Linked DNA regions of Homo sapiens. The protein of the gene in region 3 purifies or fractionates together with the protein of the main gene of each other region. This does not show direct contact. Each region holds a gene or a part of one and is shown on either strand. Other genes may lie near its edges.

Evidence for each region.
Region 1: the proteins of ANKRD9 (region 3) and SNX14 purify together in Homo sapiens (affinity purification with mass spectrometry; one large-scale study listed by BioGRID and IntAct). This does not show direct contact.
Region 2: the proteins of ANKRD9 (region 3) and ZNHIT6 purify together in Homo sapiens (affinity purification with mass spectrometry; one large-scale study listed by BioGRID and IntAct). This does not show direct contact.
Region 4: the proteins of ANKRD9 (region 3) and SERPINF2 purify together in Homo sapiens (affinity purification with mass spectrometry; one large-scale study listed by BioGRID and IntAct). This does not show direct contact.
Region 5: the proteins of ANKRD9 (region 3) and SNX13 purify together in Homo sapiens (affinity purification with mass spectrometry; one large-scale study listed by BioGRID and IntAct). This does not show direct contact.

What each region holds. Positions count from the first base shown.
Region 1 is NC_000006.12:85,583,475-85,587,550, forward strand, and holds part of SNX14 (sorting nexin-14), read right to left. Parts: intron 1-4,076. UniProt on the Homo sapiens protein: Plays a role in maintaining normal neuronal excitability and synaptic transmission. May be involved in several stages of intracellular trafficking. Required for autophagosome clearance, possibly by mediating the fusion of lysosomes with autophagosomes.
Region 2 is NC_000001.11:85,677,327-85,681,402, forward strand, and holds part of ZNHIT6 (box C/D snoRNA protein 1), read right to left. Parts: intron 3,579-4,076; coding exon 3,510-3,578; intron 2,123-3,509; exon of another isoform or gene 2,047-2,122; intron 1,456-2,046; coding exon 1,375-1,455; intron 1-1,374. UniProt on the Homo sapiens protein: Required for box C/D snoRNAs accumulation involved in snoRNA processing, snoRNA transport to the nucleolus and ribosome biogenesis.
Region 3 is NC_000014.9:102,506,575-102,511,082, forward strand, and holds the start of ANKRD9 (ankyrin repeat domain-containing protein 9), read right to left. Parts: upstream 3,203-4,508; 5' UTR 2,955-3,202; intron 2,279-2,954; exon of another isoform or gene 2,273-2,278; 5' UTR 2,067-2,272; intron 1,976-2,066; 5' UTR 1,901-1,975; intron 1,369-1,900; 5' UTR 1,316-1,368; coding exon 362-1,315; 3' UTR 1-361.
Region 4 is NC_000017.11:1,745,577-1,749,652, reverse strand, and holds part of SERPINF2 (alpha-2-antiplasmin isoform a precursor), read right to left. Parts: intron 3,946-4,076; coding exon 3,744-3,945; intron 2,635-3,743; coding exon 2,491-2,634; intron 2,345-2,490; coding exon 2,141-2,344; intron 1,056-2,140; coding exon 913-1,055; intron 1-912.
Region 5 is NC_000007.14:17,933,522-17,937,597, forward strand, and holds part of SNX13 (sorting nexin-13), read right to left. Parts: intron 1-4,076. UniProt on the Homo sapiens protein: May be involved in several stages of intracellular trafficking. May play a role in endosome homeostasis. Acts as a GAP for Galphas.

The DNA.
Region 1 (4,076 bases), on a different chromosome or scaffold from region 3:
GATGACATGATTGTATATTTAGAAAACCCCATCATCTCAGCCCAAAATCAACTTAAGCTGATAAGCAACTTCAGCAAAGTCTCAGGATACAAAATCAATGGCAAAAATCACAAGCATTACTATACACCAATAACAGACTAACAGTCAAATCATGAGTGAACTCCCATTCACAACTGCTACAAAGAGAATAAAATACCTAGGAATACAATTTACAAGGGATGTGAAGTACCTCTTCAAAGAGAACTACAAACCACTGCTCAAGGAAATACGAGAGGACACAAACAAATGCAAAAACATTCCATGCTCATGGATAGGAAGAATCAATATCGTGAAAATGGCCATACTGCCCAAAGTAATTTATAGATTCAGTCCTATCCCCATCAAGCTACCATTGACTTTCTTAACAGAATTAGAAAAAAAAATACTTTAAATTTCATATGGAAACAAAAAAGAGCCTATATAGCCAGACAATCCTAAGCTAAAAGAACACAGTTGGAGGCATCAAACTGCCTGGCTTCAAACTATACTACAAGGCTACAGTAACCAAAACAGCAAGGTACTGGTACCAAAACAGATATATAGACCAATGGAACAGAACAGAAGCCTCAGAAATAACACCACACATCTACAACCATCTGATCTTTGACAAACCTGACAAAAACAAGCAATGAAGAAAGGATTCCCTATTTAATAAATGGTGTTGGGAAAACTGGCTAGCCATATGCAGAAAACTGAAACTGGACCCCCTCCTTACACCTTATACAAAAATCAAATAAAGATGGATTAAACACTTAAACGTAAGACCCAAAACCATAAAAACCCTAGAATAAAACCTAGGCAATACCATTTAGGACACAGGCATGGGCAAAGACTTCACGACTAAAACACCAAAAGCAATGGCAACAAAGCCAAAATTGACAAATGGGATCTAGTTAAACTAAAGAGCTTCTGCACAGCAAAAGAAACTATCATCAGAGTGAACAGGCAACCTACAGCATGGGAGAAAATTTCTGCAATCTATCCATCTGAGAAAGGGCTAATATCCAGAATCTACAAGGAAGTTAAACAAATTTACAAGAAAAAAACAAACAACCCCATCAAAAAGTGGGCGAAGGATACAAACAGATCCTTCTCAAAAGAAGACATTTATGCAGCCAACAAACATATGAAAAAAAGCTCATCATCACGGGTCATTAGAGAAATGCAAATCAAAACCACAATGAGATACCATTTCATGCTAGTTAGAATGGTGATCATTAAAAAGTCAGGAAACAACAGGTGCTGGAGAGGATGTGGAGAAACAGGAACACTTTTACACTGTTGGTGGGAGTGTAAATTAGTTCCACCATTGTGGAAGACAGTGTGGTGATTCCTTAAGGATCTAGAACCAGAAATACCATTTGACCCAGCAATCCCATTACTGGGTATATACCCAAAGAATTATAAATCATTCTGCTATAAAGACACATGCACACGTTTGTGTATTGCAGCACTATACACAATAGCAGAGACTTGGAACCAACCGAAATGCCCATCAGTGATAGACTGGAAATACTATCACCATGAAATACTAGGCAGCCATAAAAAAGGATGAGTTCATGTCCTTTTCAGGAACATGGATGAAGCTGGAAACCATCATTTTCAGCAAACTAACACAGGAACAGAAAACCAAACACTGCATGTTCTTACTCATAAGTGGGAGTTGAACAATGAGAACACATAGACACAGGGGAGGGGAATATCACAAACCAGGACCTGCTGGGGAGTGGGGGACTGGGGGAGGGATAGCATTAGGAGAAATACCTAATGTAGATGATGGATTGAGGGTGCAGCAAACCACCATGGCACATGTATACCTATGTAACAAACCCACATGTTCTGCACATGTATCCCAGAACTTAAAGTATAATTAAAAAAAAACAAACAACAACAACAACAAAAACACTGAAAACCAATAAGCTAAGCATTCAGAAACTTGGGGGGAAAAACAATAAATCCAAACACATGAAAAGGAAGGAAATAGTCAAGAGCAGAAATCAACAAAATAGACAACAATGACAAATTAACAAAATATAAGCTAGTTCTTTGAAAAAATTAATAAAACAACCAAACTTCTAACTGGATACTAATGGAGGTTAGTAGGGTACCAATTATTACTCTAAAAATTGATAAAGAGTAAGCATTTATCCTACTTTTCCAATTTGAACTATCTATCAGAATAACTAAATAGACCTAACGGATGGAGTAAAGCAATTCTACAAAAAAGAATCAAACTTAAAAATACAGAAGAAATGAGAGAATTCGAGAATAACCATGTTGTAACCCATAATTAAGTAACTGATTCAAGAAATAAATAAATGGTAAAACCAAAGAGTAAGTTTGTTGGACACAGTATCGGTGGACATTAACTGAACCCATTAAAAGTGAAGCAATCCTATCTTACATATCCACTGATGTGATGCAATGGAATGTACATGGCATCACTAAAGTCTTCTTGCACCACTCCCCGCAACAGGAAAAAAAAAAAAAAAAAACTAAATCTAATTGAGCCTATAGATCAAACACTGTGACTACCAAAAATACAAATGTGAGGATTAAAATACAAGACACTACAAGGAAACCACAACAAAATCCAGAATGTGAACAAATGATCCAGTTTCCTCAACAAGTCAATGGCAAGGAGAAAAAAATGGTGAGGAGGGATCTTCCAGATCAGCAGTTGACAAATGATGGCCTGTGGACAAAAGTATACCTGTTTTTGTATGCCCCTCATACTAAGAAAGGTTTTACATTTTTAAAGGGTTTTTTAGAAAGAAGAATAAGCAACAGAGACTTAGCATGGTATACAAAGCCTAAAATATTTACTACCTAACACTTTACAGAAAAAAATGTGTCAACCCTTATTCTAGATTACAAGACATTTAGAAAAGCTTGAGATGTAGGAACCAAATAGGAGTACAACTTGTTTAGATACCAATTAGAACAACTGCACTATATATTTTTACCCAATAGGGAAAATTTTTATTATGGAGTAGTTATTAGATGATATTAACCAATTATTGTTAATTTTGTAATATTATAGTTTTGTATGGAAGTGATTTTTTTTTTATTTCTATCTTTTATAGAGACATGGTCTTGCACTGTCACCCAGGCTGGAGTGTCGGGGCACAATCATATTTCACTGTAGCCTTGAACTCTTGGCTCCAGGAATCCTCCCACCTCAGCCTCCCGAGTTAGCTAGGACCATAGGCTCGCTACTTTTTTTTCTTTTTTTGGTACAGACAGGGTCTTTCTGGCCAGGTGCATAATTTCAGCAATTTGGGAGGCCGAGGTGGGCAGATCACTTGAGGTCAGGAGTTTGAGACCAGCCTGGCCAACATGGCAAAACCCCATGTTGGGAGTCTCCACTAAAAACACAAAAATTAGCCAGGCATGATGGTGGATGCCTGTAATCCCAGCTACCTGGGAGGATGAGGCACAAGAATTCCTTGAACTGAAGAAGTGGAGATTGCAATGAGCCAAGATCACGCCACTGCACTCCAGCCTAGGTGACAAAGTGAGACTCCATCTCAAAAAAAAGAAAGAGAGAGAGACAGTGTTTTTCTATGTTGCCCAGGTTCATCTCCAACTCCTGGCCTCAAGTGATCCTCCCACCTCCACCTCCCAGAGAGCAAGAATTACAGGCATGGGCCACCTCACCCACTCTATAAGACATTTCTTAAAAAGATAAGGCAAAAAAAAAAATATGGCAAAATATGGATAGTTGTTAAAGTTGAGTAATGGGTGCTTGCAAGTTTTTTACACTCTCTTATGTATGCTTGGAAATTTTCAATATCAAAAGTTAATTAAAAAGACAAACCTCTAGCAAGACAGATCAAGGATACAAATATACAAAACACAGAATGAAAAAAGTAACCATAGCTATACTGAAATAAAAAATAAGACTATGAACAACTATATATTAATACATGGAAAATCTATATAAAATAACTTTTAAAAAATTTTTTTGAGACAGAGTCTCGCTCTGTCATCCCAGGCTGGAATGTAGTAGCATGATCAGAGCTTACTGCAGCCTC
Region 2 (4,076 bases), on a different chromosome or scaffold from region 3:
ATCATATTGAAGGAAAAGCTGATTTTTAATATATTTCAAGATAGTCTTATGGAGACTAAGCATTTGTACCTAATAATACTTAAAAGTTCATGTATTTAAGCATAGAAAAGGAGATAAAGATGTTTTCTAACCAGAAATCTGAAAAGAAAATAATTTTTTTCCTTTGTTCAATTAAACATCTTAAATTTTAAAACACCTGTTTCAATAAATTAATCTGGCTATATAATTTTACAAAAATGTATCCTATTCAGTGACATTTTGTCTTACTGGCAAATATATGACTAATGATAATAACTAGGTTACCAGTTATAAGGAAAGAAACTCAACTATCATAGCTATTTTAAAGACTGCTTGATATGTGACATGGGTCTGGTTCAGTCTGGGCATGACCTTTTATCAAAAGCAAAAGAATGAGATTCAATTAGAACTGGATTAGACATTTTAGAATCCACCCAGTCTAAATTTTAAATACCAGGTTATTCTGGAACCAAACCAAGCACTCATTCACATCCCAAGCAAGTACCATCTGGTGAAAATAAAGTCAACCGGGTTTCTGCCCAGGAGCACTAATAACTCACACTCTAATAACAATCTCCGTTTTCGAGTAGTGTCTACTATATGCTAGGTCCTGTACTAGGAATTTCATATATGCTATTTCTTTTAAGCTTTGTAACAACCCTATCTAGGAAGTGTTATCATTCTTATTTCACTGATGAGAAAAAATAAGGCCTGGAAATTAAGTAACTTGCTCTTAATCACACAGCTAATAAGGGACAGAAACAGCTATTTTAACCCAGATATCCATGACTGAATCTTTCCACTATGTTATGTTAACCACTTTTGTCCATGCTGTATTTCTGGACAGGAGGCAGAGTGTACTTTACTTAGTTCTAAGAAGACTTGGCTGAAACAGGATTTCCTGTCTTTAAGTTACTTGGAAACTTTTCATTTTCAGAGTTTTTCGTTCAACCTCAAAGGTAGTTTAGTTTAAGGGTTAAGAGTAAAGACTTTGACTCCAGACTGCCTGGGTGTGAATCCTAGCTTCCCTGTTTACTAGCTATAGGATATTACTTAACCACTTCAAGGCTCAGTTTCTCCATCTGTAAAATGGGTATAATAATAATCTACTTTTCAGAGTTATTGTGAGGATTAAATGAATTAACACATTTATTACTGTCTGCTTTGAAGAGTGTCTGGAACATAGGAAACAATGAATGTCAGCTATTTCTACAGACAGACCTTCAGTAAACACCAAGAAAATGTGATAGAAAGTAAATTGTACTACACATCACATTCTAATAGTCATGGATGACCCTAATAAGTACATCAACATTTTTAATTATTTCAGAAAGTTACAATATTTTTGAAGCATACCTTTGACGAATTACAGGATCAGACTTTTCAGGATCAATGTAAGGTTTTAGGATTTCATTAATAGTTTTATCATCTGGTACTCTTTACAACAAAGAAAAAAAAACAAGCTATATTAGTATTTATAATTTTCTACTAAAGGTGTTAATTTTGAATTATTAAATATTGTGGCTTTTTTGGTTTAAATAACTGAACAAAGACCTTTTATATTACTCTTGGCAAAATAAAATATCATTTTAAGCAAAAATTACTTAGGAAAAAGCTCAAAAAGAGTTCTTGGACACACTTAAGGTCTTAAAAAACAACATTTTGAGAAGTTCTGTATAAATCAATTATAAAAATATGAAGCCTCTTAACACACACCTGTACTCAAACATGAAAAGACGAGGTCAGGATAAAATATATTTGAAACTAGCAGAAATAATAAATCTGAAAAAAGGTTTCAGATTTCAGTGCATGTTCAAATTTACTCATTCTAATTTATAAGACCAAGTTAAAAAATTGATAGTAATTTCCTTGGAAACAAAACATTTTAAGTTTTCCAACTTTCTTCCATATATGCACGCTGTTTTAAACTTATCTATAAAGCTGTATAAACAAAATTAAGACACTGTTTTAAAACAGTAACTTTCCTCAACCATTTATACATATTCATATATACTATTGGCTACATACCCCTAGATGTAAAATAAGTCTTTTCCTTGTATGCAACTCCAAATAACAAAGTTCTTCACTAAAATCCCTTTGACAACTACAAAGAGAGGATATTTATGTATAATATAGGAATATGCTAAATATACTACTTAAAGAGCAACTTTAAAATTTTCCTAAATCAAGGAATGAAATAGTTCACAAACATTAAAATGTTTTTTTTTTTTTTTTTTAATTTTTTTGTTGTTGTTGTTGAGACAGAGTCTTGCTCTGTCGCCCAGGCTGGAGTGCAGTGGCATGATCTTGGCTCACTGCAACCTCCGCCTCCTGCATTTAAGCTATTCTCATGCCTCAGCTTCCCAAGTAGCTGTGATTACAGGGGTGCGCCACTTCCCCCAGCTAATTTTTGTATTTTTAGTAGAGACGGGGTTTCACCATGTTGGCCAAGCTGGTCTCTAACTCCTGGCCAAAGGCAATCCATCCGCCTCGACCTCCCAAAGTGCTGGGATTATAGGTGTGAGCCGCTGCATCTGGCCAACATTAAAATGTTTAAATGACACTTGAAAATGTTTATAGGCTGGATGCGGTGGCTCACACTTGTAATTCCGACATTTTGGGAGGCAGAGAGGGGAGGATTGCTTGAGGCCAGGAGTTTGAGACCTGCCTGGGCAACATAGTGAGGCCTTGCCTCTACAAAACTAAACAAGATTAGCTGGGCGTGATGGCCTGAGCCTTTAGTCCCACCTACTTGGAGGCTGAGGTAGGAGGATCACCTGAGCCCAGGAGGTTGAAGCTGCAGTGAGCGGAGGTCCGCACCACTGCACTCCAGCGTGGGCAACAGAGCAAGATCCTGCCCCCACTCCCCTCCAAAAATAAAGAAAAAGAAAAGAACAAGTTTTAATATGAAACAGTAACACAAAAACTTTATGCAAATTAATTCCAATGAGTACACATATATACTTCTAAAATAATGTATTTTCTGAGTGATACACTATAATGTTAATAGTAGTAATCTTTGCATGGTAGAATTTTGGGTCATTTTTCACTTCCTTAACAACCACCCAGCTGAAGAAATAGGAAACTTTCAGCCGTCTAATTCTCCTCGGATCCCTCTCCTCAATACTTGCTTTGCTGCTAAAGAAACCATCATCAGGATTTCTATGTTAATAATTTCCCTTAGAGTTAGTTCTATCACCTTTGTAGGTATTCCCAAAAGTACACTATTTAGTTTTCTGGCTTTTTTCCCCCATATTTACAATCATGTTCTCTACATTCTTCCTTAACTTGCTTTTCTTATATTATTTCTGAGATTCATCCATGTTGATGTGCATAGCTGTAGTTCATTTTTAGTGATGTTTAGCATTTCATTGTATAAATACACCACAATTTAGTTATCCATTCTACTACTGACATTAAGTTAACAGTTTATTTTAAATACACAGCCTTCAAATTAAAACAAATCAGTGATTGAAAGATAGCAGTGATACCTTTTTTCTATGTACTCAGCTTGACTTTGAGGAAACTGGAGCTTCACATGCCAACAAAACTGTTGTTTTCTAAGAGAGAAAATAATCATGTGAGAATCAAGGTAGATAATAAAAGTCTGGATGCAAATTGAACTTTCTAAATTTTCACTTTAAGATAATTCCAAAATTATTCTTAGACTTTAACATATATTTTCTATTAAGAGCTAATTTCTCTTGCAAGGGTTATTAAGAAAGAAAAAAAAGGGAAGCAGTTCTAAATTCCAAGGACTTCACATTTCTGAATCAGAAAGCAATTTCTCATAGTTCAGGGGCTTTTGGGAGCAGTGTGCTACTATTTGAAGTTTACAAATAAATTTCCTCATGACTAAATACAATGAGCTGATGTCTTTGCTTGACTAGTCTGGAAATTAGGTGAATGAAGTATTGTCCGGTTGAGTCCAGCTGGCTGGAGATACACTTCTGAGGCATGAGTACGTGCATTCAGTAGCAAAACAGGAGACAACAAGCTGGTTGCTAAGCAGAATGCACTTTGAGCTACAGTCTTTTTGCTTTCAGGTCTAAACTTTG
Region 3 (4,508 bases):
GGCCTTTTTATACGCTGTCCTGCTGCTTGGACATGCCAGTCCCCACCCCTGCACCTACCGAGCTCCTGCGGCACTCAGCTGTCACCCATCTGGGACGCACACCTGTCCGAGGCTCTAGATCAAGGTGGGAGGTTAGTCCTCACTCCCTTCAGGGGCTGGACAGCGAGCTGAAGGCCCGAGCCCAGCTGCACCCAGAAAACCTGCCACTTGGAACTCACCTGACCATCCAAGCCCAGCCCCCAGTGCATGCGACAGATGAGGCAGAGATTGTGCCGTACAGAGATCAATATATATAAAGTGCCGGTACAACGCTCTGAAAAATAGTTTTGTCCCAAAATCCAGCGCCTAGGGTGCTCCGGGCCTAGCCTTTGCCAGTGAGGTCCAACGGCTGCAGGAATGGGGGCAGCGGCAGCTCGTCCAGGGCCTCGGGGAAGCGGCCTGGAGAGATGGCGGTGACCAGCACCTGCATGGCGCGCGCGAAGAGCGAGGGCGGCGCCAGGCCCGCCAGCCACTGGAACTTGTCCTCACCCAGCAGCCGCTGCCAGCGCGGCCGGTCGCCCAGCAGCTCCTGGCGGGCCGAGCCGGCGGCACCCACGGGGGTGTACAGCGCCAGGAGGTCCAGCAGCAGCAGGCGGCGCTGGCGCGGCTCCCCGGGAGCTGAGGCGGGGGCTCCGGCGGCGGAGGGAGTGGCCCCGGCGTCGCGGCCCAGCTGGCGCAGCAGCAGCTCGAGAGGCGTGAGGCCGCCGCCGTCCCGCAGACCGGGCGAGGCGCCGTGGCCCAGCAGCAGGAAGAGGCACTCGGGGCGCGCCAGCTCACAGGCCACGTGCAGCGACGTGCCACCGCCCTCCACGCGGCTGCAGCCACGCCGGTCCAGCACGCGCGCCCGCTCCTCGGCCGGGAAGTCGCGCAAGGTGCGCAGGATGCGGCGCAGAATGCCCACGCGGTTGTAGCGCACTGCCAGCGCCACGTGCGGCCCGGGAGCCGCGCAGCAGCGGAAGCCGGCACTGGGCGGTGCGAGCGCGCGCCGCGGGAACGTGGCCAGCAGGTAATGCGCGTACGCTTGGTGGTCGTGCACGAGCGCGTAGAGCAGCGCCTCAGAGGGCGAGTAGGCGGCGGCGCGCCCGCGCTCGTCCCAGTGGAAGGCCTCGCTGGCGCGCATATCCTCCAGCAGCCACACGGGTAGCAGGTCGCGCACCGCCTGGTAGAAGGCGAACGACGACTTGCGGCACTGCTTCTGCGCTCGCGAGCGCGCCGCGCCCGAGGCCTCGGGCCCGCCGTCCGCGCCACCCCCAGGCCGCCGCGCGTCCCACGGCATGCTGGCGGCGGGGCGTTCCTGGGCCTCAAGGCATGGATCCCGCGAAGGCACACCTGCGGGGAAAGGAAGAGGCCACGGTGAGGCGCGGGGAAACTGGGGAGGCCCGGGGACTCCCCTCTGCCCCTCACACAGCCCCTCCGGTCCTGGCCCACCAGGCCTGTACCTACCTCCAGCCTCGGCCAGGCCCTTCCAGTCACCCTACAGCTCCATCTCTCCGACGCCCAGAACCACCGCCTCCATCCTTGATCTAGCTGTACCTGTTCTCCCTCCTTGAAACTGACTTGCTCTCTGGCACCTCTGCTGGAAATGCCCTTGCTGCCCATGCCCTCAAATCTCCCCTCCCCTCTCCAACCCAGGGACCCACTGGAAGAGCTTCTGTTCCCACCTAAGCCAGGTTCATACGACCCCAAATAAAGAAAAGGCCAGGGAGGGGATGAGAAAGCTTGGGCCCACATCTCAAGCTGAGGCAAATCCACTCTCCAGCCCAAGCGCAACCCTGACCCTGATCTCCGACCCCAGACCACTTGGAGGCCCCTGGAGCCTCTTCCTGGGCTGTTCAGAGGCATGATCCAGACTCAGACCTACCTGGTTCCTGCACCGCGATCACCTAGTTCCGGGGATGTGGGTATATCACAGTCCCTGGCCGAGCCTCAGCTTTATCTGTAAGAAAGGGGAGGGGTGGACGACGGCTGTGCGGGCGGGGTGAGCCTGGGGCGTGGCACCAGCCCTCTATCCAAACATGTTTGCTTACACGTTAGCTCCTGGGAGGAGATAGGAGGGTGAAAACAACCTGGAGACCGGTGTGCACCGCACTGCACAGTCTGCCATCCTCTTCAGGTCCCATACCTCTCTTGATCTCCCCGACTACTAGATGAAGCGGGTACTGCCATCCCACTTTCCAGCAGGGCACAAGCTTCTCCAATTCTCCAAGGTCAGCAAGCCACGGCAGAGCCAGGCCTAGAACTCAGGTCCCCTGCGTCTCAGTTTGGGCTCATTCCAGAATTGGTGGGGACCCCCAACCCACAGGCAATCGAGCTTAGGCCCTGACCCTGCCCTCTGAGTCCCCAGCCCCGACCTGAGCCTAGGCGTCTGACCTCTGGCTCCGTCCCAACCTCCCTACTGCCTTCTTTCAAGGGTAAGCCCTTGGTCACAAGGGGCCTGGGACAGAAGGCAGGCCGCGTCCACACACACTGACTGGGTCACTATCACTGGCAGTAACTGAGTTAAAGAGAGCGGCGCGGTGCGGGTAGGCTGTGGCCCGTGGGCAACACCGTGACTGGAGCCCCTTCCCCAAGCCTGGGCCTCCGGGCCCCAGATATGCCCTGTGCCGGCACGCGTGGGGCGCCGGGCGGGTTACGTAAAGTTCGGCCTCCCCACGTCACCGGGCAGAGTCACGGCCGCGGCTCGTGAATAAGGGGGTTGGGCCATCGAAGGCAGCGCCGCGCCCGGGGCCACCCGCCACCTCCTACCCGTCCCCTCCCGGCCTGCACGGCCAGACGTCGGGCGGCGGAGGGTCGCGGGGCCGAGCGGGGCGTCCGCGCGCAGGTGGCCGGCGCAGCGAGGGCTGCACCTGCGTGCGCGTGTGCCGGAGGAGGAGGGGGCGGCGGCCGCGGGCGCGGCGCGGGGGACGGGGACTCACCATGGGGGGCGCGGGGGCCACAGGCCGGGCGTCCCCGCCCCTGCCGCGGACCGGAGCGCGCGCTGTCCCCCGCGGGCGAGCGGGCAAAGGTCCCACGACGGACGCACGGGAGGGAGCCACCGCCGCCCGCGCCCGCCGCAGCCGCGCTCTGAGCCGCCGCGGCCGGATCGCAGGGCGGCGGTGCCGTCGCCGGCGGCGGGCGGCGGGCGGCGGGCGGCGGGCGGCGCAGTGCGGCCCCGGCCAGGCAGGACAGCGGGACCGTCCGCCGCCGCCATTGGCCCGCGCCGCCGGCCCCCGCCACCACCCATTGGCCGCCGCGCTGCACCATTGTTACGTCACTGGCCGGCGGGCGGGGCGCACCGCTGGACCCGCGGAAAACTTCGGAGAAACTTGAGGGAGCGCCGGCGGGGAGAACGGAGAGGAGGGGCGGGGCCGTGGCGAAAGGGGCGGGGCGTTGATGGGCGGGGGCGGGGCTCCCGGAACCCGAGCTGCGGGCGAAGAAAGGCTCCGAGCTCCGAGCTGCCCTAGCCCGGGAGGGCGCCGCTGCTCTGCGAACTCGGGCGCGCGCGTAGGTGGCCCGCCCTCCGCCGTGCGTGACTTTCCTCGTCGCGTCCAGCTCCCCTTTTCTTTGACCTTACGTGACCTTGGGAAAAACCTCCAGGCTGCTACCCCATCTGCACATGGGAGGGCCGGGGGTAGGAGCCGCGACCCCTAAGGGCTCCACCGCCTTCTGCCCGGCCAGGGTCGTGCCTGGCGCGCCCCCGCTCCAGCTGACCCGCGCAAGGGAGGGAGGGGCGGACGGATGGGGACAGCTGTTTAGGAGCGCGCACTGCGCCCATCTCGGCCTCAACACTCATGTTTCCACTTCGTTTCACGACCACCAGCCACAGTGGACACGATGATCCCCAGTTCACCCGCCAGCAAATCAGGGCTCAGAGAGGTGGCCTCAAAGAGAGGAGCGGCCAGGAGGGAAGCCGGGGGTTTGCCCTGCGGTTCTTCCCACATCTGGGCGGGATAGATTCGATTGGGCCTCGGCCACCCCCACCGTCTCCGTCGGGGGTTCCAAGGTTTGGGGTCATGACCTAGGGGGCTTAGGAGCCTGGGTCCATCTCAACTAATTTATGGCCTCACTCGCCCCCAGCGGCTGGGAATTCTAGGCCCATTTTACAGATGTGGACGCAGATCTGGAGAGGGGCAATGACTGCTCAACCCCCCACCCATCCTCCCAGACACGACCTTCCACCTGGAATCCCCCCACACACGTTCTCAGAGGCCAGGCAGCCGGGGTCTCATGGTGAAATCCCCACATTCCATGCAGGGGCTCTTTCTGGTTCCTTCCCTAGAATGCTGTCCCTGCCCTTCCAGTACTATCTCACCAGGGAGACCCTCCCACTCCCCCACTCCGCTCCAACCAAGCAAGGCCTCTGCCTCGCCCCGGTGGGAGGGGCCTCGTCCAGAGGGCACGCCCCTGCACACACAATCAGCCCTGTCCTGGCTTCTCTGTGTGCCCCAGCCAGTCAGTCTGGGTGGAAGTCTTACCTGGGCCCTCTCAAC
Region 4 (4,076 bases), on a different chromosome or scaffold from region 3:
CGAGGTGGGCAGATGACCTGAGGTCAGGAGTTCAAGGCCAGCCTTTGTTTTTTCTGAGTCGGAGTCTCAATCTGTCTCCCAGGCTGGAGTGCAGTGGTGCGATCTCAGCCCACTGCAGCCTCCGTCTCCCGGGTTCAAGTGATTCTCCTGCCTCAGCCTCCAGAGTATCTGGGATTACAGGCGCCCGCCACCATGGCTGGCTAATTTTTGTATTTTTAGTAGAGACGGGGCTTTGCTATGTTGGTCAGGCTGGTCTCGAACTCCTGACCTCAAAATCACAGCTCACTGCAACCTTTCCCTCCTGGGTTCAAGTGATTCTCCTGCCTCAGCCTCTGGAGTAGCTGGGATTACAGGCACCTGCCACCACGCCTGGCTAATTTTTGTATTTTTAGTAGAAACGGGGTTTCAAATCTTGGCCAGGCTGGTCTCAAACTCCTGACCTTATGATCCACCTGCCTGGGCCACCCAAAGTGCTGGGATTACAGGCGTGAGCCACCGCTCCCGGCCAAAATCACCTTCTTTTTCAGCTTTCCCTCCACAGCGCTTCCCAGCGTCTGGAATTCCTGTGTTGATGTCCATTCACTGTTGCACTGTGTATCCTCCTTCCTAAGAGCAGAGACCTGGCCTCCCTCATGCTCCACAAAAACCCTAGTGCTTAGAACAGTATCTGGAACACAGCAAATGCCCAGTATATTTTCACTGAATTACTAAACCTCAAAGAGCCTGGAGCCTCAGTCCTCCTGCCAGGTAGGATGGGGGATCATGGGACCTTTTGCAGTTGCCTGCCTAGGGGACGTGGAGGCAAGGAAGGCGAGACAGCCTCCACCCATCCCTGTGCCTGCTCCACAGCCTGTCCACTCCCTTCCCCACCTCCCAGCCTCAGGCCCAGCCTGCTGGACAACCAAGGGTGACCTGGATCTCAGGCTGCTCCAGCAAGAACCAGCGCAGCGGGTACGTGCGGGCCTGCATCATTTCCACGGGCACCGTGAACTGCTCGTCCAGGTGGAAGGAGTCTCTCTGGGTAAGGCTCGGGTCAAACTTGTTCCTCCAGAAACCTGAAACCCAGCAGAGGGCAGGGGTCACGTCGACGGGGACCAGCTTGGGGCAGAGGGCAGGGGTCACGTCGATGGGGACCAGCTTGGGCTCTGCACCCCCAGCCCGTTGCCTGTCCCACCCAGAATCCATTCAAGGATGAGACAGCGGTGGAGGCCAAGACCCCAGGGAATGCTAGCTGGCATCCAATTGATCTAAGGTCTCTTTCCCGTAGCATTTTTGAAATCTGGGCTTGTGTTTTCCCCAACCCCTGCAATTCTCCTAGGAACCTCCTCCTGGATCTTTTTTTTTTTTTTTAGACGGAGTCTCGCTCTGTCGCCCAGGCTGGAGTGCAGTGGCACGACCTCCGCTCACTGCAAGCTCCACCGCCTCCCGGGCTCACGCCATTCTCCTGCCTCAGCCTCCCGAGTAGCTGGGACTACAGGTGCCCGCCACTACGCCCAGCTAATTTTTTTGTATTTTTAGCAGAGACGGGGGTTTCACCGTGTTAGCCAGGATGGTCTCCATCTCCTGACCTCATGATCTGCCCGCCTCGGCCTCCCAAAGTGTTGGGATTACAGGCGTGAGCCACCGCGCCCAGCCCCTCCTGGATCTTTTCAGACCATTTGTTCCCAGGGTATTCACTCTAGAACAACTCATCTGGCTCCTGGGCACCCATCCCCACCACACCCAGACAGCCTCCTGCCTCATGGCCCAGACTGAGGAAGAAAGGAGACCCTCAGAACAAAGCCTGCATGGCCGGGCGCGGTGGCTCACGCCTGTAATCCCAGCACTTTGGGAGGCCGAGGTGGGTGGATCACCTGAGGTCAGGAGTTCAAGGCCAGCCTGGCCAACATGGTGAAACCCTGTCTCTACTAAAATACAAAAATTAGCTGGGTGTGGTGGCAGATGCCTGTAATCCCAGCTACTGGGGAGGCTGAGCCAGGAGAATCGCTTCAATCCGGGAGGCGGAGGTTGCAGGGAGCCGAGATCGCGCCACTGCGCTCCACCCTGGGTGACAGAGCGAGACTTGTCTCAAAAAACAAAAAGGCCTGCACGTCCCAGCTCAGCCTACAGGGTGGGGGATCTGAGAGGAGGAGGAGCGCACCCTGGAAGTGGATGGCGTTGAGGAGAAGCAACACGGTGTCTTCCGGCAGCCCAGAGAGGAATTCCTGAATCTTCCCCTCCGTGGCCTCCTTCACCCATTGGTTGATGTTTGCCAGGTCATCTTCCTGCTTTCCCGTCAGGCTCACGGGCTTTGCCCCAAATAGCTGTTCGGATTGTTCCAGGAAATCTTCTTTGATGGGAAATCCTGCACGGAGGCAGCACAAGCTGTTCCCAGGGCTCCAGGCTCCACAGCCAGACACGCCCCTACTCGCTACCAGAGGCCCAGCCCCTTGCTCTCACCCTCCTCCACCCAGGGCAGGACTGAGGGAGCTCCCTGCCATCAGCGCCTACCTTTCTGCAGGTACATCCTGGCAGCCAGTCGGAACGCGCCGGGGCCCAGGTCCTGGCAGAGGCGGCTCAGCAGATGGGGGAGGCAGGGCCCTGAGCCTGCGTGCAGCACCTGTTGCAGCCTCTGCAACGTGTGGTTCTGAGCACCTGGAGGGCACCGCACAGGCTGAGGCCCGGCTGCGGGTCCTTTCTCACCCCCACTGCCCACTCCAGTCCCTCCTGGATACCCGTGACGAGGACGTCCACGGGACCACACGCCATCCTTCCACAGCCACGGATCTGTTCTGCGTGGCTCTCACCCCTGTGGCTGACAGGCTGGGTGACCTCACCCCCCACAAGTTACCTTCCCTCTCTGGGCTTCCGTTTCCCACAGTGAGACCCTCCAGCACAGTGGGAAAGAGTGTAGCTAGCAAACTCTTGCATAAGAATCACCAGGAGGGGCCGGGCGCGGTGGCTCACGCCTGTAATCCCAGCACTTTGGGAGGCTGAGGCAGGTTGATCACCTTAGGTCGAGAGTTCGAGACCACCCTGGCCAACATGGTGAAACCCCGTCTCTACTAAAAATACAAAAATCAGCTGTGCATGGTGGCTGGTGCCTGTGATCCCAGCTATTTGGGAGGCTGAGGCAGGAGAATTGCTTGAACCTGGGAGACAGAGGTTGCAGTGAGCTGAGATCACACCACTGCACTCTAGCCTGGGTGACAGAGCAAGACTCTGTCTCAAAAAAAAAAAAAAAATCACCAGGAGGACTTGTAAATAAGCAGATTCCCCGGCCCAGTCCCTGAGATCTGATTCACATAGACAGATGGGTGGGGGCCCAGGAATCTGCATTTGTTGTTGTTGTTGTTTGAGACGGAATCTTGCTCTGTCACCCAGGCTGGAGTGCAGTGGCGCCATCTCGGCTCACTGTAACCTCCAACTCCCAGGTTCAAACAGTTCTCTGCCTCAGCCTCCTGAGTAGCTGGAATTACAGGTGCGCACCACCACGCACAGCTAAATTTTTTGTATTTTTAGTAGAGAGAGTTTCACCATGTTGGCCAGGCTGGTCTTGAACTCCTGACCTCGTGATCCACCCGCCTCAGCCTCCCAAAGTGTTGGGATTACAGGCGTGAGCCACCGCCCCGGCCTAGGAATCTGCATTTTTACCAAACAGCCACGTGACCCTGGTGGAGGAACCGCCCGCGGAGAACCATTGGAGTACTGAGTTCCTACTGGCCTCCCAGCTCTCTTGGTCTGGACAAGTGGTGCCAGGGTACCTAGTGCCAGGTGAGACAGCGCCAGGGCCACACTCAGGGGTGACAGGATGAGGTTGGGGCAGGTGGACGTTTGAGCCACCAGGGAGAACAGGTCGGCAGTGAAGGCCATCATGGCCCGGGCCAGCCTGTGGGTCTGCTCTGGGGTGGGGTCTCTGCTGCAGACTCCTGGGGGACTCTTCAGGGCAGTCTGGCCACCAGGCTCCTGCAGGGACAGATCAGGGGTCAGGGAGGTCAAGGGGTCAGCTCCAGGTTCTGTGTTGAAGGCCTTGTCACAGCCCCTGTGCCTGAGGACAGCAGGGCCTTGTCCCAGCCCCAGGGAAGAGGGAGCGTCAG
Region 5 (4,076 bases), on a different chromosome or scaffold from region 3:
AACAGAGCGAGACTCTGTCTCAGAAAAAAAAAAAAAAGAGAGAACTTGCTTTAAGGCATTCATTGAAATCGGTTTACCAACCACACAAGAAACTATCCCCTTTTTTCTCTTTCACTTCTTTTAGTCTATTCCCTGTCTCCCCTGTAACTGCACCACTAGCCAGGAGACTCCCCTCCTAATTTCCCCTCAGGACCCACCCACCTATCCACCAAGAAAATAGTGAGCAATAAAACTACATGGAGCCTAGGATTTACATTCATTAGTACAAGGAATATACAGAAAAAAAAAAAAACCCGATGTACTACCACTATTTCTATAATGACTGGCAATTTACAAAGTTATACCCTCCATCATCTTATATGATCTTCATAACAATGTAAGAACAGCAAGAAAGGTGCTATTACCCCAATTTTACACAGAAGGAAATTAAAAGCTTAGAAAGTTCAAACTAGTTCCCCAAAATCCCATCATAAATAAGTGATAAAGTTGAGACTCATCCCTTATAGTGCTTAACATACAGGTTTGTGTGTTGCCATATGTATAATTTGTTGATAGACACAGTATTTATCACTATCACTCCAGCCTATTTATTCATTTAATTCCAAATACTTTTAAAACGTTAAACAGTTTAAGAGCTATCTGCTTGCTTCAACGTTTCCTCTCCTTACACATATTTAAGGCTTTGTGACACCAAAATTAAACCTGACTCTGAAATAGAAAGTCAATTCCAGATTACAATCAATTGAGGAGGCACTTCATGGTCTATGAAACCACAAAATTTCAAAGCACAGTTTAAAAAGCCATAATCTGAGAACCTCATTCAGGGAAAGCTGTAAAGTCATTGTGGTGGATAATTTTAGATGTCAACTTGACTATATTAAGGAATACCTAAAAACCTGGTAAAGCATTCCTTTGGATGTGTCTGTGAGGATGTTTCCAGAGGAGACTGAGATTAGCATGTGAGTCTGAGTAGACTACCTGGAGGTCTGCCTTCCATGTGGGCAGGCACCACCCAATCTGCTGGGGGCCCAGAGATAACAAAAACAGAAAGAGGTATATCTACCAGAGCTGGGATACACTTTTCCACTCCACAACTTGGGAGAAAGTGTAAACCATACATGTGATAAGTGGTTAACAGACTAAATATAAAAGGAACTCAACACAATTTCAAGAAAATAACCATTTTTAAAATGGGCAAAGGGCTTGAATAGACATGTCTCAAAGGAAGACATAAATCTGGCCAACAAATACATGAAAAACTGCTCAGCATCACTAACCATTAGGAAAATGCAAATTAAAACCACAATGAGATATCACCTCACACCTGTTAGAATGGCTATAATCAAAAAAATGAGAGTAAGTGATGCCATGAATGTGAAGAAAAGGGAATTCTTGTACACTGTAGGTAGAAATGCAAATTAATACAAACATTATGAAAAATGGTATGTAAGTTCCTCAAAAACCTAAAAATAAAACTACCATACAATCTCACTCCTGGGTATATTTCCAAAAAACGGAACTCAATATGTTGAAAGGATATCTGCACTCCCAGGTTCACAGCAGCATTAGTCACAAAATCCAAGACAAAGAATCAACCTAAGTGTCCATCAATGGATAAACAGATGAAGAAAAGGTGGTAGATACAATGGAATACTAATTGGGCTTAAAAGAGAAGGAAATTCTGTCACTTGCTACAACATGAACGAACATGGAGAACATCATGCTAACTGAAAAAAGCCAAGCATGGGAAGACAAATACCACACGATCTCACTTATATGTGAAATTTAAGAAGTCAAACTCACAGAAGTAGACAGCAGAATGACAGATACCAGAGCCTGGAGAAGAGGGAGCAATGGGGATATACTGCTCAGAGTACAAAGTTTCAGATAGATAGAAGGAAGAAATTTTTAGATCAATTAAACAACTGTCAACAATCATGTATTTTATTTTTTAAATAACTAAATTTCAATTGTCTCACCATAGAAAATAATCAAGGTGATATGTTATTCAGCTGCACTTAATCATTCCACATTGTACACACATTTCAAAATATCACCCTGTACCCCATAAATGCATAAAAATGACTGTCAATTAAAATAATATTTAAAAAGAAAAAATTCTTTAAGAATGTTTATCAATATTCCTCTTGGTTTGTCAAAAGATGCCAAGTAAGGCTGTGTGTAGAGTGGCAAGCCAAACTCATTTTAGATACTGATGTCCTTCCACTCCCGTTATAAAATCCCTTTCCTACCTCTTGACACCTCTGAATGCCAGTGGACCTATGGTCTTCTTGCTTTGGTTAGTAGCTCTTGCAGTGTCATTAATAATTGAAGAAATAGCTTATATAGCTTAAAGATTAATGTGCCCCAAGAGTATTTCTATTACAAATATATTAATCAACAAAACCAAGTCATAATATTTTACTAAGCACTTATGGGCAAGACAACTGTGTGTGAGCGTGGATGTATGATGTATGTGCATGTGTGTGTTCAAAAGGACCCCTGGATGTTCAGGGAGCCTTTCTTGATACGTAACTCATCACTCCAGGATTTCCCTAAGTGAAATACAAGAAAGTGTATTCACCTCCATGGTTAAATGACTCTGCAATATGCTGTAAATTCTATCATCTTCTTTGAAAATAAATCACCTATCAAAAACTAACTATGTTAAGTCATCCAGAGAAGAAACCTATTAACTTTCTTTAGGCAAATATCCTCCAAATTTATTTCAACTACAAAACCTTTTACTTAACAACTATTAACCTGGAACTTCTCAAAGTGCTGCATTTTTTGCCTTTTCCCATTTATATCAGATCTGTTAACTCTGAGAATCAGTGTTAATATTGAAAAAGCAACAAATCTGGATGGAAGTAACAACACAAATAGAAACTATTTTTATTTAATAGTCACTTAATGATTCATATTTACAGACAACTCAAACAACTAATAGCTTTAAATAGCTACACTGTTTATTATTTTTTAAAACACAGGACAAGTGACAACACGTTGATAACTGGTTTCCATGCAAAAACAACCTCCAAAGTATGCCACAACACTGGAATGTATTCAGCACATTTTCCCACATTTCTTACCTTTAGTTTTCTGTAATAATAAATGCTCAGAATTATAATCCTAATTGCTCCTGGTATCAAGAAAAGTTTAAAAGTGTGTTTGATAAAAATTCACTGATAAATATTTCATTATCTTCTAATGTTGTGAAAACTCGGATTAATTAAAACAAATTCTCAGGTAAACAAACATCCCATGCTCTAATTTCGATATATGAAGTTTACTGTTAGGGGAAAAGAAAAAAAAAAAGAAAAAAAAAGAAGGGATAGAGGGAGAGTGAGGAGTGAATATTAAACAAGTAACTTTCATGTACACTATGACAAATTTTTTGCCAAGTATAGCAGGAGTCACATTAGAAGCAGGAAGTCCTAACAGGAGCAAGGACAACAGAAGGGGAAAAAAACTAACATTAAAAAAAATAAAATAAAATAAAAAAAAAAAAACTAGCTAGACGTTACATACAGCTCATCCCTGTATGTAAAATGCAAAAAAAAAAAAAATACATACATAAATATGACTAGCAAGTTTTCTAAATAATTCCATTGTATTTAAGATAAAATAATATAAATTGAAGCCAAAAAGTTTACATCGAGAACTATATGGGAGCTATACTTTCAATTTACATTAATCTATATTTCATAGGCTCAAAGTTCAATGTACATATTAGTTTGCTCAACTGAGTGATATTCCATTTTAGCTTAATATAAAATGGTCCTTAATTGATCACTTGTGTGGCTTCTCATTTCTGAAAAGGTTTCAATTAGAGATATATTTTTGGCCCGGTGCAGTGGCTCACGCCTGTAATCCCAGCTGCTTGGGAGGCTGAAGCACGAGAATAGTTTGAACCTGGAAGGCGGAGGTTGCAGTGAGCCAAGATCGCGCCACTGCACTCCAGCCTGGGCAACAGGGCAAGACTCCGTCTCAAAAAAAAAAAAAAAAAAAAAGATATATTTTCACAAAACGCAAAACTGAAAAGTTTCATATGAACACTTATCATTACTATTCTC